7 linked regions of the Homo sapiens genome follow. The protein of the gene in region 6 interacts with the protein of the main gene of each other region in a pairwise test. Each region holds a gene or a part of one and is shown on either strand. Other genes may lie near its edges.

The links.
Region 1: the proteins of CBX5 (region 6) and ZNF280D interact in binary tests that used the Homo sapiens proteins (3 or more experiments, as listed by UniProt).
Region 2: the proteins of CBX5 (region 6) and INCENP interact in binary tests that used the Homo sapiens proteins (3 or more experiments, as listed by UniProt).
Region 3: the proteins of CBX5 (region 6) and DDX19B interact in binary tests that used the Homo sapiens proteins (3 or more experiments, as listed by UniProt).
Region 4: the proteins of CBX5 (region 6) and ARFGAP3 interact in binary tests that used the Homo sapiens proteins (3 or more experiments, as listed by UniProt).
Region 5: the proteins of CBX5 (region 6) and PPARA interact in binary tests that used the Homo sapiens proteins (3 or more experiments, as listed by UniProt).
Region 7: the proteins of CBX5 (region 6) and BAHD1 interact in binary tests that used the Homo sapiens proteins (3 or more experiments, as listed by UniProt).

The regions. Positions count from the first base shown.
Region 1 is NC_000015.10:56,663,758-56,668,191, forward strand, and holds part of ZNF280D (zinc finger protein 280D), read right to left. Parts: intron 3,230-4,434; coding exon 2,922-3,229; intron 2,779-2,921; coding exon 2,638-2,778; intron 1-2,637. UniProt on the Homo sapiens protein: May function as a transcription factor.
Region 2 is NC_000011.10:62,133,780-62,138,213, reverse strand, and holds part of INCENP (inner centromere protein), read right to left. Parts: intron 383-4,434; coding exon 331-382; intron 1-330. UniProt on the Homo sapiens protein: Component of the chromosomal passenger complex (CPC), a complex that acts as a key regulator of mitosis.
Region 3 is NC_000016.10:70,322,715-70,327,148, forward strand, and holds part of DDX19B (ATP-dependent RNA helicase DDX19B), read left to right. Parts: intron 1-1,870; coding exon 1,871-1,973; intron 1,974-2,859; coding exon 2,860-2,974; intron 2,975-4,434. UniProt on the Homo sapiens protein: ATP-dependent RNA helicase involved in mRNA export from the nucleus.
Region 4 is NC_000022.11:42,846,845-42,851,278, forward strand, and holds part of ARFGAP3 (ADP-ribosylation factor GTPase-activating protein 3), read right to left. Parts: intron 789-4,434; coding exon 670-788; intron 1-669.
Region 5 is NC_000022.11:46,215,798-46,220,231, forward strand, and holds part of PPARA (peroxisome proliferator-activated receptor alpha), read left to right. Parts: intron 1-2,465; coding exon 2,466-2,604; coding exon of another isoform or gene 2,605-2,608; intron 2,609-4,014; coding exon 4,015-4,217; intron 4,218-4,434. UniProt on the Homo sapiens protein: Ligand-activated transcription factor. Key regulator of lipid metabolism. Activated by the endogenous ligand 1-palmitoyl-2-oleoyl-sn-glycerol-3-phosphocholine (16:0/18:1-GPC). Activated by oleylethanolamide, a naturally occurring lipid that regulates satiety.
Region 6 is NC_000012.12:54,252,117-54,256,550, reverse strand, and holds part of CBX5 (chromobox protein homolog 5), read left to right. Parts: intron 1-4,323; coding exon 4,324-4,434. UniProt on the Homo sapiens protein: Component of heterochromatin that recognizes and binds histone H3 tails methylated at 'Lys-9' (H3K9me), leading to epigenetic repression. In contrast, it is excluded from chromatin when 'Tyr-41' of histone H3 is phosphorylated (H3Y41ph).
Region 7 is NC_000015.10:40,443,453-40,447,886, reverse strand, and holds part of BAHD1 (bromo adjacent homology domain-containing 1 protein), read right to left. Parts: exon of another isoform or gene 2,486-4,434; coding exon of another isoform or gene 2,344-2,485; intron 1-2,343.

The sequences.
Region 1 (4,434 bases), on a different chromosome or scaffold from region 6:
GCTGGGCATGGTGGCACACACCTATATGGCTACTCAGGAGGCTAACACAGGAGGATCACTTCAGCCTAGGAGTTTGAGGTTGCAGTGAGCTTTGACTGCAAGACCTAGCACTCTGGGGTGACAGAGTGAGACCCCATCTCACAAAAAAAGAAAAAGAAGAAGAAATGAAGAAATGATAAAATTGGAAGTGATGGATATCCCTGGGTTTATTACATATTGTATGCTTGTAACAAAATATCACATGTACTCCACAAATATGAAGTAGTCTCTATAAAAATTTTTAAATTAATTAATTTCACATGGCTGTCAGGAACATTAAACAAATTAAGTTTTAAAAAGTGAGTGACAACAATGTCAAATACTCTAAAGAAGTCACAGAGGAGTAAGAATGAAAAATAGGGAGTAAATATGGTGATATGTTCATAACAGATAATCTTTAAAAGAGGAATGTTAGTTGGTAGGTGGGGGCAATACTCAAAAGGTAAAGAAATGAATCACAATAAAGCTGGTAGCAAACACTTTTTACAAATGTTAATGGTAAAAAGGAAGACAAGAAATAAGGAAAACAGGCAGTTGGGACAAACTGTCCTCTTCCAAAAAATTTTTTAAATACCTGAAAATGTTTGTAAGCAGAAGGAACCATATAGAGAGAAAGAGATGAAGATCCAAGTTAACTGAATATGGTCATGGTGAACTGGGGGAGAAAGGACAGTTAATGGGGAAGTGAGACATGTTAGATTTTTAAGATTAATGTCTGATTGAAGGTAACAGGAAAAATACGTGGGGTTGAAAAGAGTTAATTTTAGGAAAAATAAAAAGGATGACCTACAATTGACTAATTAATAGGCCAAGTTAACAACTGAGAAACTAAAATAAAATCTTTAGGGTACTGAAGAAGGATTAAACAAATGTTGCAGGTAAAAATAAAGAGATCTTTTTTAAAAAAATAAGACCTAATCAGAATTAAAGTTTTTGAAATCAGAGTTGACTAAATCAAGGACCATTTGATAGTCTAGAAGTGAGCACAGAGGAAGTTCAAAAGAGAAGAGGTTCAAATCTTACCTTGGCCTTTATGCCAGTGAGCATGACTAAAGATGTAAAGGATTCTAGGACAAAAAGCCACAATCAAAACAGATGATCCTGAGAGTAAGGTTGACTACAAAATTAAGATGGGTGCTACTAGGCTGGAAAAAGGAGTCAAAGCTCTGAACATCATGGGGTAATGGAAATCCAAAAGGAATGAACAGTTTATAGGAAGAGATTTAAATAGTACTGTAGTTTCAAGAAAAAAAAAGACAATATATGAACTTAAAAGTTGATGTGAAATGCTGGCACTAAAGAAGCAAGATACCATGAGGTCAGGCCAACCATGAAGACATGGGAAAACCGAGAGAAGTGCTGAAGCCACCAAAAAAGGTAGAAGAATCCTTGAAAGCAGTAGTTGATAATGACCAGCAAGTAACAGAGAAGTCATGTGTAATCTGCAAGAAAGTCACTTATAATACATTAATTCTAATTTTAAACAAAAACTGAACAAACTTACTTTGAAAAAGCAAACTCTCAGGTTTATATCTAAACAACTTTTGCCTACTTAAAAAAAATACAAACCCATTCTGAAGGAATAAAGTATTCCCCTAATGAGATCTAAAAATGAAAATAATGCAGACTCTGAAGGCTTTTCCTAACATAGTGTAAATAGTAAGTACTCAAATAATCTAAGTTGAATGAATTAATGAAAAAGAATTCCAAAAGTGGCATCATGGTGGAATGGTGTCTCATTTTCACTGAATGGATGCAAGTATAGATGGCCTGACAGATGGATAAAAAGACAGTTGGAATACAGAAAGAGAAACAGACTCCACTGAAAATCTTAAAGTCTCTCAAAGTGACTGCTTTAAAGAGGATGACGCCACTACAGCCTGGGCGACACAGCGAGACTCCGTCTCAAAAAAAAAAAAAAAAAAGGAGGATGACGCTCATGAGATTACAAGTATTTATTTAGTAAATATATTTAAAAATTTAAAATTCTGTTGGAAAGTAACCATTATTGAAACACCAATGGGGCAATAAAAAGTTCCATGGAAAAACTATTTCCCAGCCGGGTGCAATGGCTCATGCCTGTAATCCCAGCACTTTGGGAGGCCAAGGCGGGCAGATCACTTGAGGTCAGCAGTTTGAGACCAGCCTGGCCAACATGGTGAAACCCTGTCTCTACTAAAAATCCAAAAACTAGCCAGGCATGGTGGCTCACACCTGTTGTCCCAGCTACTCAGGAGGCGAAGGCAGGGGAATTGCTTGATCCTGGGAGGCAGAGGTTTCAGTGAGCTGATGCCACTGCACTCCAGCCTGGGCAACAGAGCGAGACTCCATCTCAAAAAAATAAAAAAGAAAAACTATTACCCTAACAAACCTATTCTAATTTCATTAGCTTAATTTTTCTTACAATTTTAGTCCCATAATTTCTAGTTACTATGCTGAGAAATAGGACCAGGCAATATCCTAAAAGTTCCTTATTGTTAGATCCTTTTAGCTCCTTGAAGAGAAAAACTGGCTTCTAATAGGATAACTTTGTTTTTGAAACAGAAACTTGCTGAACTATAATTTTAATTGGCAATTTACACATTTAATTCATCTTACCTCATCATATGATTTACATAGGCTTTGCTACAGCTAGTGTTGTATCTGCAAAAACTACAGTGGACGTACGTAGGAAAGTGGTTTGCAAAATCTTTTATTTCGGAACAACACTCAATGCATTTGTGAATGCCCCGACGATACCTTAGGGAGACATTAAAAAAATGATAAAAATATATTTTAAAACAAAAATAATAAGGAAGAGCCTTAATAATGTTCTCTTAACTAAAGTATAAGTTTTTATACTTAAGTTTAAATTATATTGTATATCAGGAATAAAAGATTACCTTAAATTCCTCAATGCTGTATTGACTTTACTTTTTTTATTGCTACTAGCCAATGTGCTTTGTTTCTTTTGCATATTAGAGATTTTTGGTTTGTATTTAGATTTACTTCCATTAGGCTTACTTGTATTAGGTTTACTTGCGTTGGATTTGACTGTATTAGGTTTACTTGTATTAGATTTTGCAGGATTTTTAGCAGTTATATTTTTAGTCCTTGGAGGTGAGAGCTGAAGGGTAGAAGCACTTGCACTAATGGAAGGTGTAGGTGAAGCTCCTGATTGCAGAGGTCCAACTGAAGCTCGAATAGTAACCTACAAAAATAAAGAGAAGATTTGCTTTAAGAGATTAATCAGTACATTAATATTAAAATATCATGGTACAAAAATAGTTAAAAATCAAGAATTTTGAAAAAAGCACATATAAACTACAATCAGGTAAGTCTCCCATTTATTCTAAATGTTCAAACTATTAAATGATATTAAACTTGATATTAAGTTGTAATATTACATTTTTGTATTGATATCAGTTATATGTTAACACAGTTATCAGTGAATAATTAGGAGTTAATACAAATTATATGAATATACAAAGAGCACATTCCATAGCTATTTTTATGCCCTGACTTAACTTTAAGAAATTCACAAGCATAGAGCTCAAAATTTAAATCTCAAGCCTGAAAAATAATTCTAGAAAGGCCTAAATTACCCTTTAACAACTATAAAAGAAACAGATCTACAGTAAATGTGATCTCCTCTTTCCAGGGGCTCAGTGCCCAAGATTTATGCTTACAAATGTTATGGGAGGAGTTACATCAATTTATTATACTGCATAGAGGGCTAAATAATATTCAGAAATTTCTTAAAGTAAACTAATACAAAGTTCATCATTTAGTATTCAGAATGAGAAAATGTTTAATTTCATCTGTTGGTTGACAATGAAAAACACAAGTGCCTACCAACATTCTGGTTAATCATTTGACTATACCCTCCTCCGGTATTTGAGGAACAGTCAATAAGGAAGTCCTATGACATACATGTGCTTGGGTAACATACAATGGCACTGGACCAGGAATCAAAAGGCCTTCCTAGCCATGTGACCTTGAACAAGGAACTTATCCTCTCTATGCTTCTTCACATCTATAACATGGGGCAATACCTGCCTTATTAACCTCAGTGGATTGTGGTATGAATTAGACAACAGAATGTATGAAAAAGTACACTGAAAGTCTAATTCTAAGGTGCTATAAAAACATTTAGTATCATTATCATTAATATTATTATTATTAATAAGGGAAAAAATGAGAGAGGACTGCACTGCTTACATTAGTGTTCTGCATGTCTAGTCCCAACATGGAATGAATGGATTGCAGGGAAGGATGCTGGATAGCTTCTCTTGCTATCATGTCTTCAGAGCATGGCTTTATATTGTTTTAGTTAATTCAAATAACAGACATACCCACATTCAAAGGAAAGTACCCAAAGCCAAAAATAAATGTTTTGGGGATTATTCACTTTGG
Region 2 (4,434 bases), on a different chromosome or scaffold from region 6:
TGTAATCCTGGAGCACTCCTATCCTACCCCAGCCAGTTTGAATGTAGCTCTTCCTGGCAGCCCCGCCTCACCCCCAACCTCTGGAGCCCACGCCCCAGGGTCAGGTCTAGCCAGGCAACCAGCAACGCTGACGGGTGCTGCAAGGAGACCAGGTGGCCAACACCCACATCACTCACTGCCTGGTCAGACAGGGAAAACGGGGCAGCTCCTGGGCGGTCAAGGCTCAGTGGGGAAGACTCAGCCCAGGAATTGCTTCCAGCCCTGGTGCTCACCTTGGCTCCCTGTCCTGGTATGCCCTGCCTACCTCCGAAGCCCTGGAACTGAACTCACCCAACTTTCTGGGGCACCTCAACATTCAGGAGCCTCTCCAGGTAACTGTGACCTGAGGGGGAAAAGAAAGGCACAAAAGATCTCATCAGAGACCACACAGGTCCCACTCTAAGGGGTCCAGGGGACCGGGTTCCAGCAAGGGCCTGGCCACTGCTCCCATCACTAGCCGTGGAGCCCCCACCATGCCCAGGACCCTCCCCTCAGCACTCATACTAGTGTCCTTATCGGAGCTGCTGGCTTCATGTCCCCGGCTGCTTCCCAGATGGTCTTCCCATGCCCATCTGAGAGCACGGCTGGGCACCTTCACTGGGCTGGGAATATCTCGAGAAGAGGGACAATGTTTGCTGCAGCTCCAGGCCCCAAACTCCCAGCATGGGGCCCAACACAAAGCAGCTTATTCTGTCAACAAATATTCATCAAGTGTCTACAGTGTACTGGGACCTGGGCCAGGCCCCAGGACCCCAATGGTGAGCAAAACAGAACCACCATCTGGTCTAGATAACAATCATCAAATAGTCCTATCAACAACACCAGCATGGGCAATGGTGGAACAGAGCAGAGAAATTTTTTTTCTTTTTTTTGAGACGGAGTCTTGCTCTGTTGCCCAGGCTGGTGTGTAGTGGAACAATCTCAGCTCACTGCAACCACTGCCTCCTGGGTTCAAGCGACTTCCGGCTAATTTTTGTATTTTTAATAGAGACAGGGTTTCACCATGTTGGCCAGTCTGGTCTCGAACTCCTGACCTCAAGTGATCCACCCGCCTCGGCCTCCCAAAGTGCTGGGATTACAGGCGTGAGCCACTGCGCCTGGTCCAGAGCAGAGAATTTTAAAAGCCTATGATGGGGGGACCTGAGCTGGCCTGGAGGAGTTTACAAAGGAGGAGGATGTCCAGGCCAGTGGTTCTCAGCTTGCATCCTCTGACCCTTGGACGTCCTTGAGACCCATGGGGGATCCACGAGGTCGTAACTAATCATGATACTAAAATTATGATACTAAAATGTTACTTTCCCTTTCACTATGTTGACATTTGCCCTGATGGCACAAAAGCAATGAGGAACTAGCTGCTGAAGCCTCAGCCCCAGTCAAGGCCAGAGCATCAAACACTATCCTCGGACCACACACTCACGGGAAGGAGAGATGTCCAGTTTCACTGAGGAATGTCCTTGATGAAGGTGTAAAAAGTACTAATTTTTTTTCTTTTTTTGAGACAGACTCTCACTCTGTCACTCAGGCTGAATGCAGTGGCGCAATCTCAGCTCACTGCAACCTCCACCTCATGGGTTCAAGGGATTCTGGTGCCTCAGCCTCCCAAGTAGCTGGAATTACAGGCATGTACCATCACACCCAGCTAATTTTTTATATTTTTAGTAGAGATAGGGTTTCGCTATGTTGGCCAGGCTGGTCTTGAACTCGTCCTCAAGTGAACCACCTGCCTCAGCCTCCCAAAGTGCTGGGATTACAGGCGTGAGCCACTGCGCCTGCAAAAGTCCTAATTTTACTAAATCTAAACTCAAGTACATGCCATTCTACTCTTCTGTGTGCTGAGGTGGGAAGTGTGCACAATGCCTGTTGCTGCAAACCCAACTCTCTGTGAAAAGCGCTCGTCTCTAAGCTGCCAGCTGCACTAGCCACTTTTTCACCTGAACCACTATTATTAATTAAAAGAACGACTGACAATGGTTATTCAGTCTTGGGTATCTGGAAGACATTTTTTCACAAGTCAATGAAGTGAATCCATCACAAAAATAAAACACCACGTGCTGACAATAATTTAAAAATTGGGCCAAGGCCGGGTGCGGTGGCTCACGCCTGTAATCCCAGCACTTTGGGAGGCCGAGGCGGGCGGATCACTAGGTCAGGAGATCGAGACCACGGTGAAACCCCGTCTCTAGTAGAAATACAAAAAATTAGCCGGGCGTAGTGGTGGGCGCCTGTAGTCCCAGCTACTCGGGAGGCTGAGGCAGGAGAATGGCGTGAACCCGGGAGGCGGAGCTTGCAGTGAGCTGAGATTGTGCCACTGCACTCCAGCCTGGGCAACAGAGCAAGACTCCATCTCAAAAAGAAAAAAAAAATTGAGCCAAAACGAATCCAAGAGTAGAATTTTGAAAAGCGCGTATCCACCACCAGCAGGGTCACAGCATCCTAATATCTAAGGACTTTTCTGATGAGGTCAGAAAACAAATGTGCTTTTTTAGGATATTATATAATGAAGGGTGTCAACACTTGGAAGACGTGCATAACTTGGTGAAACAATATTTTCGAAATGATCGATGTATGTGGTTATGAAATCAGACACATCTAAAAGATCCATTCAAAGTGTGGCCAGTTGTGGTGGCTCACGCCTGTAATCCCAGCACTTTGGGAAGCCGAGGCAGACGGATGATTTGAGGTCAGGAGTTTGAGACCAGCCTGGCAACATGGTGAAACCCCGTCTCTACTGAAAAGACAAAAATTATCCGGGCGTCGGTGGGCACCTGTAATCCCAGCTACTCGGGAGGCTGAGGCAAGAGAATCACTTGAACCGGGAGGCAGAGGTTGCAGTGAGCTGAGATCGCACCACTGCACTCCAGCCTGGGCGACAGAGTGAGATTTCATCTCAAAAACAAAACAAAACAAAAAAAAACAAAACAAAGTGCAAGGTAGACCCGTGTGGAATCAGCAACATGGTTTCAGATTCCACACCACAACAAACCTTTAAGAACTACCACTTCTTGCGCTGGTCCTGATAACAAAGAATATGCATAATTATCTGAAAAAGCTATGAAGATACTCCTCCCTTTCCCAACTACACGTCTATGTGAGGCCAGATGTTCTTTAGCTACTTTTTTTTTTTGAGACAGAGTCTCACTGTATCACCCAGGCTGGAGTGAAGTGGCGTGAATTCAGCTCACTGTAACCTCCACCTCCCGGTTTCAAGCAATCCTCCTGCCTCAGCTTCCTGAGTAGCTGGGACTACAGGCACGTGCCACCACGCCCAGATAATTTTTTGTATTTTCAGTAGAGACAGGGTTTCACCATGTTGGCCAAGACAGTCTCAATCTCTTAACCTCATGATCTGCCCACCTCGGCCTCCCAATGTGCTGGGATTACAGGTGTGAGCCACCTCGCCCGTCCAGTTCTTCAGTTACTTTAACCCAAACAACACAATGCAACAACAGATCAAACGCAGAATGTGGCTTATTTAAAGTCATACAATAAAGAGATTTGCAAAATGTAGAATAATGCCAGTGTCTTCAGTACATTTTTGTTTTGGAAAAGTTATTTTTTCATAAAAAGTCTTAATGTAAACAGGTGATAGGCTTGGTACTTGCATTTTATAATGTTAAAATATTAAACAATATTTTTAAATCTTTAAAGTACTAAATATTCATATAAAAATATTAATATTTAAAATACTTTTAAACTCCTCAGTTTTAATTTTTAATACAGTAACGATCAATAGATATAACCTCATAATCAAAGCTTTTTTTTTTTTTTTTTTAACAGAGTCTCACTCTGTCTGGAGTGCAGTGGCACAATCTCAGCTCAGTGCAGCCTCGACCTCCTGGGTTCAAGCAATCCTCCCACCTCAGCCTCCTGAGTAGCTGGGACTACAGGCACATGCCACCATACCTGGCTAATTTTTTCCATTTTGGTAGAGATAGGGTCTGGCCATGTTGTCCAGGCTGTCAAAAGCTTTTTGAGGCTGAGGCTTAATCATTAAAAACAGGAAGCCCAGGTCCCTCACCCTCAGCACTCACCCTGGTATCCTCACCACAGCTGCTAGCTTTATGTCCCCGGCTTCTTCCTAGCTGGGAGCATGCCTGTTCCCAGTGCCACTGGTCTAGGGAGAAGGAGGGCCAAGGCCATGAGGCAGGAAAAAAAGAGGCTTTTTTGGGGAACAGAGAGAAGGTAGCTGAGCTGGCGCATCCTGAGCCATGGGGGCTTGGTCAGAGTTCAGGCTGGGAGGTGGCCAGCGGGAGGTTGGGGTGCACAGGGTCTCAGGAAAAGAGGGAAGACAGCAGGCCAGGCACAGAGAAGGGAAGCCAGGACCCTTCCTGGGTATAGCAGCCAGGTTTGGGGAGGTGGTGGGAGCAGCTGCAGCGCCGGGCTGACAGTCATGGG
Region 3 (4,434 bases), on a different chromosome or scaffold from region 6:
AACCCCATCTCTACTAAAAATACAAAAATTAGCCAGACGTGGTGGCAGGCATCTGTAATCCCAGCTACTCTGGAGGCTGGGGCAGAAGAATTGCTTGAACCTGGGAGGCAGAGGCTGCAGTGAGCTCAGATCGCGCCTTTGCACTCCAGCTCGGTGACAACAGTGAAACTCCGTTGCAAAAAAAAAAAAAAAAAAAAAAAGTCCCCATAAGGAACAGCTTACTTTTGCCAGATTTTAAAATTCCACCTGTGGCCGGGGGCCCTCCCCATGGTTTCACTTTTAGTTCATGTTTCTTCTGTTTGTTTGTTTGTTTTTTCCCCTGCCGGAAGACCTCATTTTCCTCGTCCATATCTTTGGCCTGCTGCGGCTGCTCCGTTTTTTGTTTTTTGTTTTTTTGAGACAGGGTCTTGCTCTGTCACCAGGGCTGGAGTACAGTGGTGCAGTCTCAGCTCACTGCAGCCTGCAACCTCCACCCTCCACCTCCTGGGCTCAAGAGATCCTCACATGTCAGCCTCCCAGGTAGCTGGGACTTCAGGTATGTACCACCATGTCCAGCTAATGTTTGTATCTTTTGTAGAGAAAGGGTTTCGGTATTTTGCCCAGGCTGGTCTCAAACTCCTAGGCTCAAGAAATCACCCACCTCAACCTCCCGAAGTGCTGAGATTGCAGGCATGAGCCACTGCACCTGACCTTGCCTGCTTTTTTTCTTTTTTCTTTTTTTTTTTTTGACACTGAGTCTCGCTCTATCACCCAGGCTGGAGTACAGTGGCGCGATCTCGGCTCACTGCAACCTCTGCCTCGTGGGTTCAAGCGATTCTCCTGCCTCAGCCTCCCAAGGAGCTGGGACTACAGGCGCCCACCACCATGCCTGGCTAATTTTTGTATTTTTAGTAGAGTCAGGGTTTTACCATGTTGGCCAGGCTGGTCTCAAATTCCTGACCTCGAATGATCCACCCACCTCGGCCTCCCAAAGTTCTGGGATTGCAGGCATGAGCCACCGCGCCTGGCCTTGCCTGCTTCTTGAGCTGCTTCTTGCCACCTTCAAGGCAAGACTTGGTTCTTGCCACTCTTACCCCCTACCCTGCTACCAAAACCTACATCTTGTTTTTTTTAGGCATTTCAAGGTAGATTACACTTTTAAATCAAGTGGTTAAGGTAGGATCTCCTGAAGTAGATATCTGGGCAAAGACTTGAAGGAGAGAAGGGAGTTAGCATGTTATCTGGGGACAGTTGTCCCAAGCAGAGCACAGCCAAGGCAGAAGCCCTAAGACAAGAGCATGACTGGCATGTTCTCTGAGCAGTACTAGGGCCCTGTGGTGGAACGAAGTAAGGGAGAGAGAGTAGTAGGAAATGAGAGCTGAGGTGTAATGGGGAGCAGATCATGCAGGACCTGTATGCCATTATGAGGGTTTCAACTTGTACTCTGAATGAAACGAGGAATTATTGGAAGGTCTTTGGGCAGAGAAGTAATGTGAGCTGACTCACATTTTAAGAATCAGTAGGCCAACTGCAGTGACTCACACCTATAATCCCAGCACTTTGGGAGGCTGAGGCAAGAGGATCACTTGAGCCCAGGAGGTTGAGGCTGCAGTGAGCCAAGATTGTGCCACTGCACTCCAGCCTGGTCAACAGAGTGAGACCTAATCTCAAAAAAAAAAAAAAAAAAAAAAAAAAGAAGAAGATGTGGAGTGCTTCAAATCCCACCAGAAAATCTTATTTCTATAGTGCCCTGTTCTTGTGAAGCTAGCATATGTAACTCTGCTACATAATCCAAGGTCTCCTATAAATGAATTTTTAATACTCATTTTTTTAAACTTTGTTAACTAAAAGGTTGAGATTTAAGCTCCTAACTAGTTTGTTTCTTGCGCAGCCCACAGAACTTAATTGCCCAATCTCAGTCTGGTACTGGTAAAACAGCTGCCTTCGTGCTGGCCATGCTTAGCCAAGTAGAACCTGCAAACAAATACCCCCAGGTAAGGATTTATGAATTTAGGTTTTCTACTAATGCATAGATAGAAGGGGATTTCCATTTGATGGATTAAAAGACAAGCTATGGGCTGGGTGCAGTGGCTCATGCCTGTAATCCCAGCACTTTGGGAGGCCGAGGTGGGCGGATCACCTGAGGTCAGGAGTTCTAGACCAGCCTGGCCAACATGGTGAAACCCTGTCTCTACTAAAAATAAAAAATTAGCTGGGCCTGGTGGCATGTGCCTGTAATCCCAGCTACTTGGGAAACTGAGGCAAGAGAATCATTTGAACCCGGGAGGCGGAGGTTGCAGTGAGCTGAGATCGCACCATTGCACTCCAGCCTGGGCAAAAAGAACGAAACTCTGTCTCAAAAAAATAAAATAAAAGCCAAGCTATGCATTACTTTTTACACAAACTGAAACTCCTTAAATTGAGCACAAATAATACGGGATATCTTCCAATGGCAATAAAAATCCTGTTTCCTTTTTCCATGGTGTGCCAGTTCTGGGATGCTTCTTACAGGCTTGGCTCCTTTACTTGCAGGAAAACCTGTTTCATCAGCAACTGCCATCCATTAGAAAGTTCTGAGAGCTTTCTGAGTAAACGAAAAGAAAGCTAATGCCAATTGGAACTTTAGATCCTTGCTCATGGGTGGGTTTTTGTATTGCAGTGGCCAGTATCTGTTTTCAAGTGTCTTTACCCAGCCAGAGTTCTGACCCCTAAGAATTCTAGCTTATGACTCTGTAGCTTAAAGAATCAAATGGTGTACATTTTAATGTACATATTCTTTCCTTCAGCTTCAGCTGGAGGAGTGGCTAAGTACTAATGGTAATTCCCCTTTGCAAAAGAGCTATTGTCTTGAATTTGCACTCTGCATTCTTTTCCTGCCAGTGTCTATGTCTCTCCCCAACGTATGAGCTCGCCCTCCAAACAGGAAAAGTGATTGAACAAATGGGCAAATTTTACCCTGAACTGAAGCTAGCTTATGCTGTTCGAGGCAATAAATGTGAGTATGTGAATTTGGTCCTAAATCATCAACCTAATTCTTTTTATTTTGAAATATTTCAAAACCCACCCAATAGTTGAAATAATACAATAAACACATGTATGTTCTCCAGCTAGATTCAAAAACTTAACATTTTGCCATATTTGCTTTACATAAATGTATACATTTTTGTCAAACCATTTGAAAGTAAACTGCAGACATGCACCTCATGAGGACATTCTTTGCCATACCTATGGATACCCTTTTATCACAACCAGGAAAATTAACAGATTTCCTAGAATAACTAATACCAGTCCATTTTTATTCCTCCCCAGCTGTTCCCAAAGTCTTCCTTTATAGCTGTTTGGTTTTTCGACCAAGATCAAGTTAGCGTTTATACGTTGCGTTTGGTTGTTGTACTTGTTTCTTTCAATCTAGAATTGTACCCCTACCTTTTTCTCTCCCTATTATATTTAACATTTTGCACAGACCAGACTAGTTGCTTTTCAAATATTCTACATTCTGGCCGGGCGCGGTGGCTCACGCCTGTAATCCCAGCCCTTTGGGAGGCCGAGGCGGGCAGCAGATCACGAGATCAGGAGATTGAGACCATCCTAGCTATCATGGTGAAACCCCGTATCTAATAAAAATACAAAAAAATTAGCCAGGCGTGGTGGCGGGCACCTGTAGTCCCAGCTACTTGCGAGGCTGAGGCAGGAGAATGGTGTGAACCTGGGAGGCAGAGCTAGCAGTGAGCTGAAATAGCGCCACTGCACTCGAGCCTGGGCGACAGAGCGAGACTCCGTCTCAAAACAAGCAAACAAACAAAAAACAAACAAACAAAAATTCTACATTCTAGATTTGTTTATTTTTATTTATTTATTTTAGAAACAGAGTCTTGCTCTGTCACTCAGGCTGGAGTACAGTGGCATGATCTTGGCTCACTGCAACCTCTGCCCTCCGGGTTCAAGTGATTCTCCTGCCTCAGACTCCCAAGTAGCTGGGATTACAGGTGCCTGCCACCATGGCTGGCTAATTTTGTATTTTTAGTACAGATGGGGTTTCACCACGTTGGCCAGGCTGGTCTCAAACTCTTGACCTCAGGTTATCCATCTGCCTCGGCCTCCCAAAGTGCTGAGATTATAGGTGTGAGCCACTGTGCCCAGACTTCTTTCTTTTTTTTTTGAGAGAGAGTCTCGCCCTGTCGCCCAGGCTGGAGAGCAGTGGCACAGTCTTGGCTCACTGCAAGCTCTGCCTCTGGGGTTCACACCATTCTCCTGCCTCAGCCTCCTGAGTAGCTGGGACTACAGGCGCCCACCACTACGCCCAGCTAATTTTTTGTATTTTTAGTAGAGACGGGGTTTCACTGTGTTAGCCAGGATGGTCTCTATCTGCTGACCTCGTGATCCTCCCGCCTTGGCCTCCCAAAGTGCTGGGATTACAGGCGTGAGCCACTGCGCCTGGCCGCCTTCTTTTTTTTA
Region 4 (4,434 bases), on a different chromosome or scaffold from region 6:
TTTTCATTGCTTGTAACAGAATTCCTGAAACTGGGTAATTTATAAAGAAAAGAAGTTGATTTCTTACAGTTAAGGAGGCTGAGAAGACCAAGGTCAAGGGGCTACATCTGGTAAGAACCTTCTTACTGGTTGGACTCTGTAGAGTCCAGAGGCAGCATCGCCTAGTGAGAACGCTGAGCGTGCTAGCTCAGGTCTCTCCTCCTTTTCCTATAAAGCCGCTTACATGATAACCCATTAACCCATACCAATGAGGGCTCAATCAATTCTTAAAGGCCTCACCTTTTAATACTGTATGGCAACACTGAAAATCACATTTCTTTCTTTCTTTTTTTTTTTTTTAAGAGACAGGGTCTTACTCTGTCGCCCAGGCTGGAATGCAGCGGCAAGATCATAGTTCACTGCAGCCTTGACTCCTGGGCTTAAGTGATCCTCCCACTTCAGCCTCCTGAGTAACTAGGACTAGAGTTATACATCATCACACCACAACATTTTTTATTTTTTGTAGAGGCTGAGTTCACTTGAGCCCAGTGAGCTATGATGGCACTCCTGCAGCCAAGGTGACAGGCGACAAGGCAAGACACTGTCTCAAAAAAAGAAAAGAAAAAAGGGAAAAAAACACCCATGTAACAATGTAATCAATCTCACCCCAATGAGAGAAGATTCACTTACCGAATAAAACTCAAGTGAACACCAAGTGACCGGTGGGACCCTGAGCAATCAATGCAAAGGAACACTCCATAGGTTATGCTTGCCCAGCTGGGATTTTTGGCACCACAATCAAAACACACCTGAAAAAAAATGTTAAATTCAGTTACTAATTTATGTTAGCCAAATAAATTATCCTGTAAGATACAGTAAATGACTTAGCTTGAAAACTGTTTAACCTTTACAATGTAAACTTTGGGATTGTATTATTAGAAAATATCTCACCTAGGTTTTTTTAAAAGCCTCAAATTTCATGCTCTTTTATTATTATATATAATTATATTAATTATAAATTAGTATAGTTAATTACTATATTATGTATTTTTTTATTCTGAGACAGAGTTTCGCTCTGTCACCCAGGCTGGAGTGCAATGGTGCAATCTCGGCTCACTGTAACCTCTGCTTTCCAGGTTCCATTGATTCTCCTGCCTCAGCCTCCGGAGTAGCTGGGACTACAGGCTCACACCACTATACCCAACTAATTTAGTACTTTTAGTAGAGATGGGGTTTTACCATGTTGGACAGGCTGGTCTCGAATTCCTGACCTCAGGTGATCTGGCAGCCTCGGCCTCCCATAGTGTTGGGATTACAGGCACGAGCCACTGTGCCCAGTTTACTACATGATTTATACAGTATATTACAGATTATGTTATATATATATTTATCTATTTATTTTTGAGACGGAGTCTCGCTCTGTCGCCCAGGCTGGAGTGCAGCGGCACGATTTCGTCTCACTGCAAGCTCCGCCTCCCAGGTTCATGCCATTCTCCTGCCTCAGCCTCCTGAGTAGCTGGGACTACAGGCGCCCGCCACCGCACCCGGCTAATTTTTTGTATATTTAGTAGAGATGGGGTTTCACCGTGTTAGCCAGGATAGTCTCGATCTCCTGACCTCGTGATCCACCCGCCTTGGACTCCCAAAGTGCTGGGATTACAGGCGTGAGCCACCGCGCCCGGGCTATCATGTATATATTTTAACAATGCACACTATACATAGTGAAGAGAATTTAGGTTTGTGTACCATCTCAAACATGCCTTATCCTTGAAGCATCAGCAGGGATCCTACCAGTCATGTAAAGGAATGCTAGTGAGGGAAGCAGCCCTGCCTAGAAACACTCCAGCCCTACCATCCTTCCTGGCAGTGGCTATACCAGATGGCAGGCTGTTGAGCATATTGCTTCTCTCCCCAGCCAGAGGAAGAGGTTGTGGCAGCCAGACTCCAAGATGGCCCCAGTGAAACCCACCTCCTGGTATTTGCATCCCGTGTAATCTCCACCACCCTCACTTTACCAAGGTGATCTGTGTGTCTATGTGTATATGGCAGAAATGACCATGTCATTTTTGAGATTGGGTTACAAATGACACTATGGCCTTTTCCTGTCTCCCCCACTCTCTTTTTCTCTCTCCCCCTCTCTCCCTCCCCACCTTGGATCACTAGCTCTAGGGGAAGCCAGGTGCCATGTCTTGAGGACACTCAGGTTGCCCTGTGGAGAGGGTGAAGTGCTGAGGAGTTGAGGCCCCCAGTCCAACTGCCAGCGAGGAGAGGAGGCCTGCCAACCACCATGTGAGTAAGCTCCCAGATGACCTCAGCCCTGGGCCAACAGCTTGACTGCAGCCTCATGAAAGACCCTGGGTCAGAAGCAGCCAGCTAAGTCACCCCCAAATTCCTGACCCTCAGAACTATCTGTTGTTTTATGATGCCAAGTTGGGGGTGATCTGATACACAGCAATAGATGACTAATACAGAGAGATATTCCTTTATGAAATGCTGTGCCCTTCTCTACCTCCACTGCCTCACTCTGTCCAGGTCACTTTGATAACTCTTAGATGCAGGTTCATAACCGAGGACTACGTTCCCTGCCCACTGAGGGCACTGAGAGCTCTTACAGGGGTAGAATCTTTCCCTTTTGCTAATCTTTATGGCTTTTTTTCTTTTTTTTTTAAGGAGACAAGGTCTGGCTCTCACCTAGGCTGGAGTGCAGTGGCACGGTCCTAGCTCGCTGCTTTATGGCTTTTTTTTTTTTTTTTTTAAAGAGACAAGGTCTGGCTCTGTCACCTAGGTTGGAGTGCAGTGGCACGGTCCTAGCTCACTGCAGTCTCGAACTCTTGAGCTCGAGCCATCCACCCCCCTCAGCCTCCTAAGCAGTTAGGACAAGTGTATGCCACCGTGCCCAGATTTTTTTTTTTCTTTTGTAGAGATGGGGGTCTTGCTATGTTGCCTAAGCTGGTCTTGAACGCCTGGGCTCAAGCAATTTGGGCCCTCTCGGCCTCCCAAAATGCTAGGATTACAGGTGTGAGCCACCACGTCCGGCTCCTGTCACCTTACTTTCCTGTCCACTAGCACAGAACCTGCACATGGTAAACGCACAATAAGTGTTTGCTGAATAGTTGTGTACTTTTAAATCTCACACACAGCCTGAAAAATAGGCTTACCCATGGTAAGCATTCAGTAAATATTTGTTACTCAAAAGAATAACTTTAAAAACGTATTGCCAGCTCAAAAATTACTAGCCCCTTCAACACTGACACTGAAGCCCAACAGGAGCATAAAAGTACTTTAAAATACACAGTGCTAACTAGCAGAGTCACGCGTCGGAAGTGTGCTGGGCCCATAAAATACACAGTGCTTGTTGTGGAAAGTAGTATTTATAACTCATTAAACTCCGAATAGGGAAAAAATTCCTCTAATAGAGGTGTTTTTAATCTTTTTGCAGGAAAAAAAAATACATATTAGATATATAGGCTGGGTGCAGTGGCTCACACCTGTAATCCTAGCACTTTGGGAGGCCAAGGCAGGTAGATCGCTTGAGCTCAAGAGTTTGAGACCAGCCTGGGCAACATGGCGAAACCCTATCTCTACCAAAAAATTAAAAAAATTAGCCGGCGTGGTGGAACGTGCCTGTAGTCTCAGCTACTCAGGAGTTTGAGGTGAGAGGATCGCTTGAGCCTGGGAGGCGGAGGATGCAATGAGCGGAGACCACTCCACTGCACTCCAGCCTCAGCAACAGTGAGACCCTGCTATCAAAAAAAAAAAAAAAAAAAAAAAAAAGATATACTTTATAGGCAGAATCACTTATGTGAAGGTTGTCCAACCTATCATTATCAAGCAAGATCTGGCTTCTGGTCTTTTCAGGGCAATACAAGGGCAATACAAGAGAGGAAACACGAGTGGGTTTTCTAAAGCCCCTCACCACAATATGCTCACACTGATCGCACACTGAATAATCGGGGTGGAGTGACAACTGACACAAAAAGAGGCCAGGAGATTTACTTTGGTGTTTACTGATCACCTGCTGTATGTCAGACATGTGACAGGTGATGAGGTATGAAAAAGTAGCAGCACAAACACTAGCTGAACGCTTATTGGTGCTAGTCTTTAAAGAGCTCACTGAGAAGTGGGGAAGACAGACGCGCAAATTCAAACGCCCTGTGGTGATGGCCATTAGGAGAACCCTCTTCTGTGGGGCATCAAACAAAACGACAGACTCTGCCAAAAGGTGCTGTTCTTCCCCGTCAGGCTGTGTGTAATTTCTCACCTAGTTACTCAACTACCAGTTGCTGTGCACTTACCATCAAGTGTACCTGGCACATACCAAGTGGACATACCAGCGTGGTTCAGGAAGTCTGCCCACATGGAGCCCACAGTCTAGCAGTCCAGTGGGCAAGACAATTAGTTACAAGATTGTTTCCTAGTAAGCAAGGACAGGATGCAAAGGGTTTTTGGTAGAGG
Region 5 (4,434 bases), on a different chromosome or scaffold from region 6:
TAGCCTCTCTTTATAGCACAGAACCCCTGAGAGCGTAAGCCCTGTTGTGAACTGCGTATTTGAGGAATCTAGCTTGTACGCCCCTTATGAGAATCTAATACTTGATGTTCCAAGGTGGAACACTTTCATCCTGAAACTATCCCTCCCCACCCCCATCTGTGGAAAAATTGTCTTCCATGAAACCGGTCCCTGGTGGCAAAAAGGTTGGGGATTGCTGCTTTAGAGAGTCTAGGACAAATGGTTCCTCTGTGCTTTGTAAATACTTAGAGAAGTGCATTCTTTAAAAGAAAATAAGTCACATTGGACCGGGTGCAGTGGCTCACGCCTATAATCTCAGCACTTTGGGAGGCCGAGGCGGCTGGATCACCTGAGGTCAGGAGTTCAAGACCAGCCTGGCCAACATGGTGAAACCCTGTCTCTACTAAAAATACAAAAATTAGCCAGGTGTGGTGGTGGGTGCCTGTAATCCCAGCTACTTGGGAGGCTGAAGCAGGAGAATTGCTTGAACTCAGGAGGCGGAGGTTGCAGTGAGCTGAGATCGAGCCATTTCACTCCAGCCTAGGCGACAAGAGTAAAACTTCATCTCAAAAAAAAAAAAAAGAGAGAAAAGAAAATAAGCCACATTAAGAACATCACTTCATTCGAATACAAGACAGAGAGCTGTTACCGTTGATCTCTGGAGCCTCCCTGAAGGCCAGGTGGGGCAGGTGTTCTCATGCTCCTGCCAGGGAAATTGGCCATCAGAGACACAGAGTATCTTGCTTAGGGTCCCACAGCCCCCAGCAGCAGGGACTGGAACCAGAGACTGGCTGCTCCTGCTCCCCAGCAGTTCCTTCCTGCACATCAGGGGCTTCTCCACCTGATTCAAGCGACAGGAACCCCCTGTGCATCTTCATCCTCCTGCTGGCTCAGCCTGCCCTAAACAGATGTGACCTGGGCCAGGAGTGCATGAAGGCAGGCCCTGTTGTCCTGCATGCTGCCAGCTGGACTGGTGGCCCTTCCGTGTTTGTCAGCGTGGTGATGAGGAGAGCTCCTGTAGCAGCGTCCCTTTAGGGTTGCACAGACGTGCTCAAGTCTGGCGCCTTATGTACGTGATATGTGGGAGATCATCATCTGAATGTTTGGTTTGAATCAGAAATCCCTTCTCACGGTGCACGCTGCAGGTGTTCACTAACTTGGAAAATGCCACCGCCTTTCTGGCACAATGTACCATCTTGGAACACCAGCATTCTGCCCTGAGCCAGGCCTGGCCTCAGAGGCCTGGGCCACAGGGAGAACCTCACAGCCAGGACACTGTGGCACTCTGCTGTCTAGAAGCCTGTCTCCCCACCCTTCCCATTCTAACCCCATGCGTTCCTCAGCCTCCCCACTGTGCAAGCCTAGGTAAGGACATTATGAAGACGTCAGCCTGCCTCTCACATTCCCCTGCACACTGCTGTCCCTCTCCCGCGGGCCAAGCAGACCCACTGTGGCAAAAATATAGAAGAATGACTTAAAAGCAAAGAGAAAAAAGAACCCAAAGCAAAAATGAACTCCTTCGCATGTTTTCTAACCATATACCTTTGAAAAAGCTCCTTATAAAGTGGCCTTTTCCTTAGGGCCATGATTAATTATTCATTTAGTTTTGTTTTTTATGGACTATTTAGTAACATTGTTTCTTGCTGGGTAGAGTTTAAGATGCTTTTACAAAGCAAGAAAATTGTTTACAAACAGCTGGCTTCCTTTTATTATAATTTTTGTCTTTGAGGGAGTTAATATACTCTTACAAAAATTCTTAGAAAGTCTTTAGTCACAAATATGGAAATGTCACAATGCTGGGGATAGTTACATTCATATACATTGTAACAAGGCTGAGTAACTCTTTGGAAAACTATAATTGTGTTTTCCCAAGTCAGATGAGGGCATTTTGAAATGACTTCGAATGCTGCCTCATTTTATTGTTTTTCACATTAAATGTAACGACATTTAAAGTTCTGTATTTGTCCTAATCATTCCAGACTTCTTAGAAGAACTATTTCTTTCTTTTTTTTTTTTTTTTTTTTTTTTTTTTTGAGATGGAGTCTCACTCTGTCGCGCAGGCTGGAGTGCAGTGGCACAATCTCAGCTCACTGCAACCTCCGCCTCCTGGGTTCAAGTGATTGTCCTACCTCAGCCTCCTGAGTAGCTGGGACTACAGACTTACATCACCATGCCCGGCTAATTTTTGTATTTTTAGTAGAGACAGGGTTGCACCATGTTGGCTAGGCTGGTCTCGAACTCCTGACCTCAGGTGATCCACCCGCCTCAGCCTCCTAAAGTGCTGGGATTACAGGCATGATCACCATGCCTGGCCTGGAATAACTTTTCTCTAAATTTTGTTCATTTAAAAAGAAACAATAAATGAGCAACAAAAAAGGTGAGTAAAGCAAGTGCGCTGGTTTCTCAGTGGCCCAGGTCTTTAAATCCACTGTGTATTACCCTCACAGGGCTTCTTTCGGCGAACGATTCGACTCAAGCTGGTGTATGACAAGTGCGACCGCAGCTGCAAGATCCAGAAAAAGAACAGAAACAAATGCCAGTATTGTCGATTTCACAAGTGCCTTTCTGTCGGGATGTCACACAACGGTAGGTAAGGTGGCCCTGCACATTTTCCCAGTTCGTTCCTCAGTTCCCCTTCCTTGCTCCAAGGGAACAGATCAAGCTATGGATGAATGTGCTTCAACATTTCACACCCAAGTCATTTTGTAATCAGAGTGGCCTAAGAAAATAAAAGTCGCCCAGGCGCGGTGGTTCACGCCTGTAATCCCAGCACTTTGGGAGGCTGAGGTGGGTGGATCACCTCAGGTCAGGAGTTTGAGACCAGCCTGGCCAATATGGTGAAACCCCGTCTCTACTAAGAATGCAAAAATTAGCTGGGTGTGGTGGCACATGCCTGTAGTCCCAGCTACTCGGGAGGCTGAGGCAGAAGAATCGCTTGAACCCGGGAGGCGGAGGTTGCAGTGAGCTGAGATTGCGCCACTGCACTCCAGCCTGGGCGACAGAGGGAGATTCCGTCTCACAAAAAAAAAAAAAAGAAAAAGAAAGAAAGAAAGAAAATAAAAGTCTCCCAGGTGCGGTGGTTCACACCTGTAATCCCAGCACTTTGGAGGCCGAGGCGGGTGGATCACTTGAGGTCAGGAGTTTGAGACCAGCCTGGCGAACATGGCAAAACCCCGTCTCTAATAAAAATACAAAAATTAGCTGGGCATGGTAGTGCACACCTGTAATCCCAGCTACTTGGGAGGATGAGACAGGAGAATAGCTTGAACCCGGGAGGCGGAGGTTGCAGTGAGCTGAGATCGCACCACTGCACTCCAGCCTGGGCGACAGAGTGCGACTCCGTCTCAAAAAAAAAGAAAAAAAAAGAAAAAGTCTCAAATAGCTGAGATTCAGTGGTGCATTGGACTCGCTGTTAGAAACTTCAGTGGTAAGACTTTGATACAGAATCGAAAAACCAAGTGGAAGGCACCAAAATGACAGAATGTTCACCTCGTCCATAGGAAGGGTGTACCACCTCAAACATCTCACCACGTTATGAATTTCCTTCTAGCCAATCATTTAATAGTTTCAGAACATGCTAATTGTGATGTGAATGTAAGTCGTTCATAAGAGTTGCATGTCTACCTTCTGGAAAAAGAAGCAGTTATTATATAAACTCATCCCGAAGCCCCGTTCACCTCCTTCACTCAAAGGTTGATGATGCACCTGATAGTGGTGTGCACCCTACTAATGAGACGAACGATGGTGTCACCTTCAGCCTGCACCTGTTAACGATGGTGTCACCTTCAGCCTGCACCTGTTTAAACATCTACAGTGTATGGAGTTTGAGTTTTTCATCTCTCCATAGTGGAAAGCCGAATAGTAATGAAGGATGGGTCTGAACTGCCTGTGAATTTTCATTCCTGGTTTAAAGTCCTGGGGGAGCCCCTCGTCCAGCCCTGTCCGCGCAGTCATGACCTCACTGCTCATGCCTGTGTTTCCCCCTCCAAACCCTAGCGATTCGTTTTGGACGAATGCCAAGATCTGAGAAAGCAAAACTGAAAGCAGAAATTCTTACCTGTGAACATGACATAGAAGATTCTGAAACTGCAGATCTCAAATCTCTGGCCAAGAGAATCTACGAGGCCTACTTGAAGAACTTCAACATGAACAAGGTCAAAGCCCGGGTCATCCTCTCAGGAAAGGCCAGTAACAATCCAGTAGGTGTTTGCGGCTGTTCTGGGTTCTCTTGGCAACATGGAACCAGTGTCGTAGAGGACGATTAAGGACACATGTGTTGAATGTTGAGAAAATTATATTTATCCCACAGTTAAGCAAAGGACAGCGAAGATGGAAACAGTTCATTCTGAGACTCTGAGCTGTAGCTTAACAACAACTCCTTTCTTCTTGCTTGGAGCCACCTCAAAGCTCTTAGCA
Region 6 (4,434 bases):
TCCTGCAGTCTAGGACCTAAATACACTAAAAGATACAGTGGTTTACCAATACTTTTGGATAAAGGCTATGTGTCAAGAACCTTTGAAACATACTGGAGGTTATTTCATTACATGACTCAAGGTTTCTCATCTGGAGAATTATTGGCGTTGTAGGTGGGATCATTCATGCATTGCAGGATGCTTAGCATCTCTAGCACCCAGAGTGCAAGTATGGGTAGCACAACAATCAGAAGATGCCCTCTGTTTGTAGAGAGGAGTGGTATCACAGCTTCCACTAGAGATGAGAACTGTTAAAGTTTGAGAGACCTCTAGAGCACTAACAGATAGGAACTAAAGTAACACCAGAAGATTTTGAAGATGTTTATTGGGCCCATTTCCACTGGAAATATTTGGGTGTTTGAAAGATACTTGAAACTCTTTCTCTGTCATTGAGCTACTGGTACCTTACCATAGATGAAAGGGGAAAAGGTAAGGTTTGGGGTAGACAAAGTAAACATTGGTCCTTTTTCAGAAATGCCCTGGATTTCATAAAAGACTGGAACAAATCAGCATTGTCTATAACTAAATGCCTACTTTGTGCTAGACAGTGATCAAATTCTACCTCTTGTGCTCTCTTCGATTCTCACAAAAGCATTTAGAGTCCAGGCATGGTGGTATGTACCCGTGGTCCCAGCTACTAGGGAGGTTGAAGTGGGAGGATTGCTTGAGTCCAGGAGTTTTGGGCTGTAGTGCACTAAACCGATCAGGTGTCTGCATTAAGTTTGGCATCAATATAGTGACCTCCCAGGAGTGAGGGACCACCAGGTTGCCTAAGTAGGAGTGAACCAGAGCAGGTCAGAACTCCCATTTTGAGCATTAGTAGGATCGTACCTGTGAATAGCCACTGCACTCCTGTCTGGTTAACATAGCAAGACCCTTGCCTCTTTCAAAACTTTAATTCTTTTTTTAATTTAAATTTTTACATATTTTTATCTTTTTTTTTTTTTTTTTTTGAGACAGAGTCTCTCACTATCGCCCACGCTGGAGCTCAGTGGCGCGATCTCAGCTCACTGCAACCTCCGCCTCCCGGGTTCAAGCGATTCTCCTGCCTCAGCCTCCCGAGTAGCTGGGATTACAGGTGCCTGCCACCACGCCCAGCTAACTTTTTGTATTTTTAGTAGAGACAGCATTTCACCATGTTGGCCAGGCTGGTCTCGAACTCCTGACCTTGTGATTCGCCCACCTCAGCCTCCCAAAGTGTTGGGATTACAGGCGTGAGCCACCACGCCCTGCTTTTTTATCTTCAAAATAGAGACAGGGTCTCACTGTGTTACCCAGGCTGGTCTCGCTCTCTTGGGTTCAAGCGATCTGCCTGCCTTGGCCTCTTGAAGTGCTGGGATTATAGGTGTGAATCACTATTCCTGGCCAACCCAGGCTCTTTTTAAATCATACTATGTTGTCTTTTGGGTGGAAACTGAAGTAGAAGCAGCAGTACCAAAGTGTTAGGAAAAGGGATAATCGCATTATAGGACTGGCTTTTCTAGCTATCAACAGATTCTTCCCAACCCCCAAGTGTATTCGGCTTGTGTAATAGTCTTGGTACACCTTTTGATATTGGTATGTTAATTTCCTCTGGGATGGTAAACTATATGGTCTGTGGGTTTTGGGGAAAGTTACTGTGTGAGGAATTTTTTTTCTTGACTTCTTTTCTTTTTTTGAGACAAGAGTTTTGCTCTTATTGCCCAGGCTGGTGTGCAATGGCGTGATCTTGGCTCACTGCAACCTCCTTCTCCCGGGTTCAAACGATTCTCCTGCCTCAGCCTCCTGAGTAGATGGGATTACAGGCGCCCGCCACCACGCCCTTCTAAATTTTGTATTTTTATTAGAGATGGGGTTTCACTGTGTTGGCCAGGATGGTCTCGACCTCCTGACCTCAGGTGATCCACCTGCTTCTGCTTCCCAAAGTGCTGGGATTAGAGACTTGAGCCACCGTGCCCGGCCGAGGAATTTTTTTTCTGCTGAGAGAAGGGATATAAAGGAGAAACTTTCCCATATTAGCTCAAATGATTTAGAAATAAATTTTGTCTCAATATTATGTTCCTTTTGTAGAAAGTTGTTTAGGTCAAGAGTAAATAGCTCAGATTTTTCCGTCTTTCTGCTTTCTACTTGAGTCAGGTTATTATGGCATGTGTTCAAATCATTCCCATCTAAATAAACCTTTTTTTTTTTTTTTTTTTTTTGAGATGGAGTTTCACTCTTGTTGCCCAGGCTGGAGTGCAATAGCTCGAACTCAGCTCACCACAACCTCCTGCCTCCCGGGTTCAAGTGATCCTCCCTCCTCAGCCTCCTGAGTAGCTAGGATTACAGGCAGGTGCCACCATGCCCGACTGCTTCAGCCTCCCAAAGTACTGGGATTACACGCATGAGCCACCGTGCCTGGCTGAATTTTGGGTTTTTAAATAGCTTTATCGAGGTATTATTTAAACACCATAACATTCACCCATTGAAATTGTACAATTCAGGCTAGATGCGGTGGCTCACATCCATAATTCCAGCACTTTGAGTGGCCGAAGCAGGCGGATCACTTGAGGTCAGGAGTTCGAGACCAGCCTGGCCAACATGGTGAAACCCCGTCTCTACTAAAAATACAAAAATTGGTGGCGCATGCCTGTAATCCTAGTTACCGGGGAGGCTGAGGCCGAAGAATGGCTTGAACCCAGGAGACAGGTTGCAGCGAGCCGATATCACACCACTGCACTCCAGCCTGCAAGACAGAGTGAGACTCCATCTCAAAAAAAAAAAAAATTGTACAATTCAGTGATTTTTTTTTTTTTTTTTTTTTTTGAGATGGTATCTCACTCTGTTACCCAGGTGGGAGTGCAGTGGTGCAATCACGGTTCACTGCAGCCTCAACCTTCTGGGCTCAAGGGATCCTCTCATTTCAGCCTCCCAAGTAGCTAGGACTACAGGTGCAAGCCACCATGCCTGAGTAATTTTTAAATCTTCTGTGGAGACAGGAGTCTTGCTATGTTGCTTAGGCTGGTCTTTGAACTGTTGGGCTCAAGTGATCTGCTCACCTTAGCCTCCCAAAGTGCTGAGATTACAGGCGTGAGTCACTGCGCCCAGCCCAATTAAATTATTATTATTGTTTTTTTTTGAGATAGAGTCTCAGTCTGTTGCCCAGACTGGAATGCAGTGGTGCAGTCTTGGCTCACTACAACCGCAGCCTCCCAGATTCAAGCAGTTCTCATGCCCTAGCCTCCTGCGTAGCTGGGACTGCAGGTGTGCACCACCAAGCCCAGCTAATTTTTGTATTTTTAGTGGAGACAGGGTTTTGCAATATTGACCAGGCTGGTCTCGAACTCCTGAGTGCCTCTCAAAGTGCTGGGATTACAGGCGTTAGCCACTGTGCCTGGCTCCAATTAAATGATTTGGAATAAATTTATAGAGCTATGCAACCACCACTATGATCCAGTTTCAGAACATTTTTGTGTCCCCCAAAATTCTCTTGATTCCCATTTGTAGTTAATTACAACTCCCTCCCTCAGCCCCAGGCATTCACTGATCTGCTTTTTTTTTTTTTTTTTTTTTTGAGACAGAGTCTGGCTTTTTCGCCCAGGCAGGAGTGGCACAATCTCAGCTCACTGCAACCTCCCCTTCCCGGGCTCAAGCAATTCTCCTGCCTCAGCCTCCCGAGTAGCTGGGACTACAGATGTGTACCACCACACCAAGCTAATTTTTGTAATTTTAGTAGAGACACGGTTTCACTGTGTTGGCCAGGCTGGTCTCAAACTCCTGACCTCAAGTGATCTGCCTGCCTCGGCCTCCCAGAGTGCTGGGATTACAGGTGTGAGCCACCGTGCCCGGCTGATCTGCTTTCTGTCTCTATAAATTTGTCTTTCCCAGACATTTCATGTAAATGGAATTAGTATGTAGTATCTTGTGTCTTATTTCTTTCACTTAGTATAATGTTTTTGGGGTTCTTCCAAGTTGTAGCATGTTTTAATATTTTGCTTATTGTTGTTGGATAATATTCCTTTGTATGGATATACCACATTTTGTTTTTCCATGTCACCATCCATTGATGAACATTTGAATTTGTTTTCTGTTTTTGGCTATTAAAATGCTGCTGTAAACAATTGTAAATAAGTCTTTGTGTGGGCTTTTTTTTTTTTTTCATTTTTCCTGGGTAGAAATCTAGGATCAAATTTGTTATCTTCTTTAAAGCATAGGGTTTCTCTGTCCTTTTTGTCCGAATGTCCTCTTTGAAATAAGGCATTGGATTTTTTTCCTCATTCTTTACCCCCCCCTTTTTTTTTTAATTTTCCCATTTTTCTTACCCAGGGAGCACAATACTTGGGAACCTGAGAAAAACTTGGATTGCCCTGAGCTAATTTCTGAATTTATGAAAAAGTATAAGAAGATGAAGGAGGGTGAAAATAATAAACCCAGGGA
Region 7 (4,434 bases), on a different chromosome or scaffold from region 6:
TTCAAAGATACGTTGTCCTGATTTTATAGTAAATCCAGAAAAAGGTAACCCCCAACCATGCATCTACCCAATACCTCTTGTCTCAGGTGAAATTCCCTGCCTCCAGCCCAGACTGCAATGAAGACTAAAAACTGGTCATCATGCTCTAAACTGTCATCTTAACATGCAAAGACATATTAACTGCCCCTTGTCTACCTCCCTCTGGGCCAAATAAATTCAAGTCCTTTCAATTTCTCTGGAAATCATCTCTCAGTTATTCAATCATTTTTATTTTTATTTATTTATTTATTTATTTATTTATTTATTTATTTATTTATTTATTTATTCTGGAGACAGAGTCTTGCTCTGTCGCCCAGACTGGAGTGCACTGGCGCGATCTGCAACCTCTGTCTCCTGGGTTCAAACAATTCTCCTGTCTCAGCCTCCTGAGTAGCTGGAATTACAGGTGTATGCTACCAGACCCGGCTCATTTTTGTATTTTTAGTAGAGACGGGGTTTCAGCATGTTGGCCAGGGTGGTCTTGAACTCCTGACCTCAAGTGATCCACCCGCCTCAGCCTCCCAAAGTGCTGGGATTAAAGGTGTGAGCCACGGCACCTGGCCTCAATCATTTTTATAATTCTTTTTTACATTCTAGCCAATGTGGAAACCCCTCCAGGCACAAAGCAGGAGACACCCCTCACTACTGAGGAAGGCCCTGCTGGCCCTGACTATGGTGGAAACGTGACTTCACCCCTCCTTCTGGCATACTTGTTAGGATCTCCTGGCATCAAGCGGCACCCTAATAATACCTTTCCCACGATTTCTACATAGGTCCTCTAAAAAACAGTAATTCACCTTTAAACCACCTGGCCACATGAGAATGTGATTAACAATTATTCCTAAACATTGTGGACAGGTAACCAGAGTTGGAAAAGGGTCTGTGTGGGCTGCCCCTCTCCACTGCACGCAGGAAGCTGAAAAAGCTGCACTGATGGAGGCTAGGAGTCCCCAAAAGGCATTGGAGATGGAATAAAAGTAGGAGCCATCAACAGCACTCCAGGTGAGATCCCTGGGGTCAAGAGAACGGCAGAAAGACAGGTCCCATCCTCCTTACCCAAAGACAGGAGGTCAAAGCACCTCTTTTCCCCAAACCCACTGGAAAAGGAACACATGCAAGAAAAAATATTGAGACCCAAGTTCCTGCCTGACATTGGTAACAAGACTAAGAAATCACCTGTTTTTTTTCATTCAGCTAACTTGGTCATAGTGCTTAGAAATAAGTTCCCAATTCAAATCAGCGAGGCTGAGAGACAAACCCCTTTTTTTCTCCTGGTGGATTGGGCCTGCAGAGGATCTTAAAAGACAATGTTATTTTTTTGTGTTGGGGGGACACTGAGTCAAGTGAATAACCATCCTTGCAGGTGTTTCCCACTGGGAAAAATGAAATCTGATGACCCCACTCCCACCCACAGGGACACAACACAAAGTCCTGGATGTGACTGTACTCCAGGGCCTGCTTACCAAGTCACCTGGGGCAGGACACCAACACCCCTGTTGGAACCCCAGGGCTGGGCCGGTGTTCAGTGAGGGTGCTTGTCAGGCCGTCTGGCCCTGAGCAGACCACGTGCAGCCTCACTGCTGCTGGTGCTCTTTCTCCTCCTCCTTTTTAGCCATTTTACTGATCATTAGTGGCAGTACCAGGAGGTGGGCAGGGGAACATAAAGGAGCTGAAATTCAAACCAGCCCATTTTACACCACTTAGGTGCCTCCCATAAAACCGGGCAAGATTTCATCATCCAAGAACTCCCTGTCCTCTGTCCTGTGGAGGTCTAAGCAGCCTGAGGGGTCAGGAGCTACACCATCTCCAGACCCCAGGATCAGGAGCCTCTATCTCTAATTATCATGAGCTCTTGACTGCGCATGGTATTTTCTGTCACTTCAGGGTTAACAGGCATTTCCAGCCATGAGCTGGCCCATCAAGTCAACGCCAGGAAACCTGCAGAGTGGGAGTGCTGGGGCTGCCCTCAGAACCGAAGCACACTCTCCTTGTCCCTCCAAAGTCCCCAGCACAATGGCAAGTTCACAAAGGAAGTGAGCCTTGCCAGACTGTGCTAGCAAATTCCCATAAATACTTGGGTCGGGGTAGTACTGCTTATGTAAAATGCTTCCCCATTGAGAGATGCTGCTTTATTTACATTCTTCACAACCCATTCATAAAAAGGAGGCCCTTTAATGTCGGGGCTGTTCGTATAATGCTCCATAAACTCGGCAGCTTCGCCTGGCAGCCTTAGTTCAACACAGGCTACTTCTCAACTCCAGAGACTTTTTTTCCTTAAGGTTTTTATTCTCCTTAATGACTCACCTTGCGACAGGGTGCTGAGGCCAGATGTTGCCGGAGCAAGGCCAAGAGGAATAAGAACAGATAAAATGAAAACACACAAGTCCTCCTGGATGCTGGAACAGAGAGGTGAGGAGGAATGAAAATAATTTTGAGAATTCCCCATAGAACTCCAATTTGAAGTATGTATGCTAGGAGGCTGAATTCCTTCCAGGTTTACTAAAACTTCCTTTCTGGATGTCAAATGTGCCCCAACTTATACCTCTAACCAGAGAAGGTGTGAAAGGGTTGTTTTTTTTTTTTTTTTTTTTACCCAAAAGGAGCTCTCTCTAGTTTTTAATTTGCACCGGGGATGAATAAATAAACAGAAATTTTCTCTGTTTCTTGATATAAGTGTTCCAGGGGCTGCTGGCTCCAGAAGGGGCACAATTTGCTCAGAGTGAAGAAACTCAGGCAATCCCCAGAAAGAGAGGAAGGACTGTGTTCTAGGACACACAGCAAACACAGCTAAAGGAGCTGAGAAGAGAGCCCAGGAGATGCATTCTGAGGTAGCTTTTCTCCTGCTACAGTAGAAGGAGGAGAGAAGTAGTAGGGATTTTTTTTTTAATTGACGGGGGAGCGGTCTGCATTGCCATGGCAACTGTGAGGGGTGGCCTTCCCGCGTAGAAGGGAAATGCTGGTCCATTAATCATCAAACTGGGGCACAAAAGGGAGGTTTGGGGGAAAGGGGATGGATGCAGAATATATTTTTTCACTATCTGGCCTCTAACCAGTCACCAGTCCTCTTTCCCGTTTCCCCCATGGTCCAGGGTTGATGGTGAACCAAAACAGAAGCCTGAGAGAGCAGGGATTGTAGCTTTCCTTTATGAGGGGTCCAATGTGGGGCTGATTGTGCCTCTTATGTTGGTGATGCCCCCATAAACACCTCTTCCAAACCAGCCCCAAAAGTCCCATCTATGGGCCAGACCCAGGAGTATTTTTCTTTTCTGTGCTCAGAATTGTGTTTTCTCCCTCATTTGCACCCGGTTTGAGAAGAGATAAAACATGGATTCATTTAGCATGAACAACAAGGAAAACTGCATAAGAGCAGCAAAGCTGGGTAGAAAGAATGGTGGTCCGGTGAGGTAGGAGGAAAACAGGATTACAGCCCTTTTCCAATGTCTATATGGTATCACATAAGCAATCCATAGGACTCTTCACCAGCAGAAATATTAGAAACAGCAGTTAAATTTCCCATTTACAGCACCCCAAACATGCCCTATCCATATGCCTTTGACAGAAAGGGCTGGAAATCTCCAAGGACTCCAATATGAGCATTTCTGGAGAAGCTGAAAGGAAGGTCTCCCCCTTGTTCCTGCCTAACTCAGCAACCAACCACATTTATTCACTCAACAAAAATGATGTGCACAGCACTGTACAAGAAATACCAGAATATTCACACACACACACACACACACAGAGGTTTAACACTCATATTGTTCCTGTCCTTAAGAAATTTCCAACCTACAAAACCACTCAAGAGGATACCACGTTAGAAAATCCAGAGTCATGAGCTCAGGCGGGGATGACTATGTTGGCCTGGAGTGGTCTGAGCAACAACCAGACTAAGGACAAGTGGGATTCAAGTGGGAGTAAAGGAAGGGGAGCGGCAGCAGTGAAGATGCAGGAAGAAAAAATGTGCATGGTATGGCTAGGGAAGAGCTGGAGGGGACACTGTCTAGGGTCAGACTGCAGGGAACGGGGAGCCATTGCAAGTCTGTGAGAAAGGGAGTGACACCGGGAAGGGGTGTTTTAGGAAGAATGACCTGGTAGCTGCATACAGACTGGATCAGAAGGGCCAAAGGAAGCAGGAGGGAAAGGGAGGCTATAACAACAACACAGGCCTGACACGGGGACAGCAGGACAACAGAAAGGAAGAAAGAGAGGGAGATATCAAAAAGAACCTAATCACTGGCTAAACTCTCCGGAGCAAACCCTCCTTAACACCAGATCCGACTGGCATGAGTCTCCTGCCAGGTAAGAGCCCTACCAAAGAGGGAAATGCTATTTGGGCAACTCCCCTTCATATTCCAGTGGCCAGACCACGTCATCCCCTTCTGACTGCCACCAAAAGAA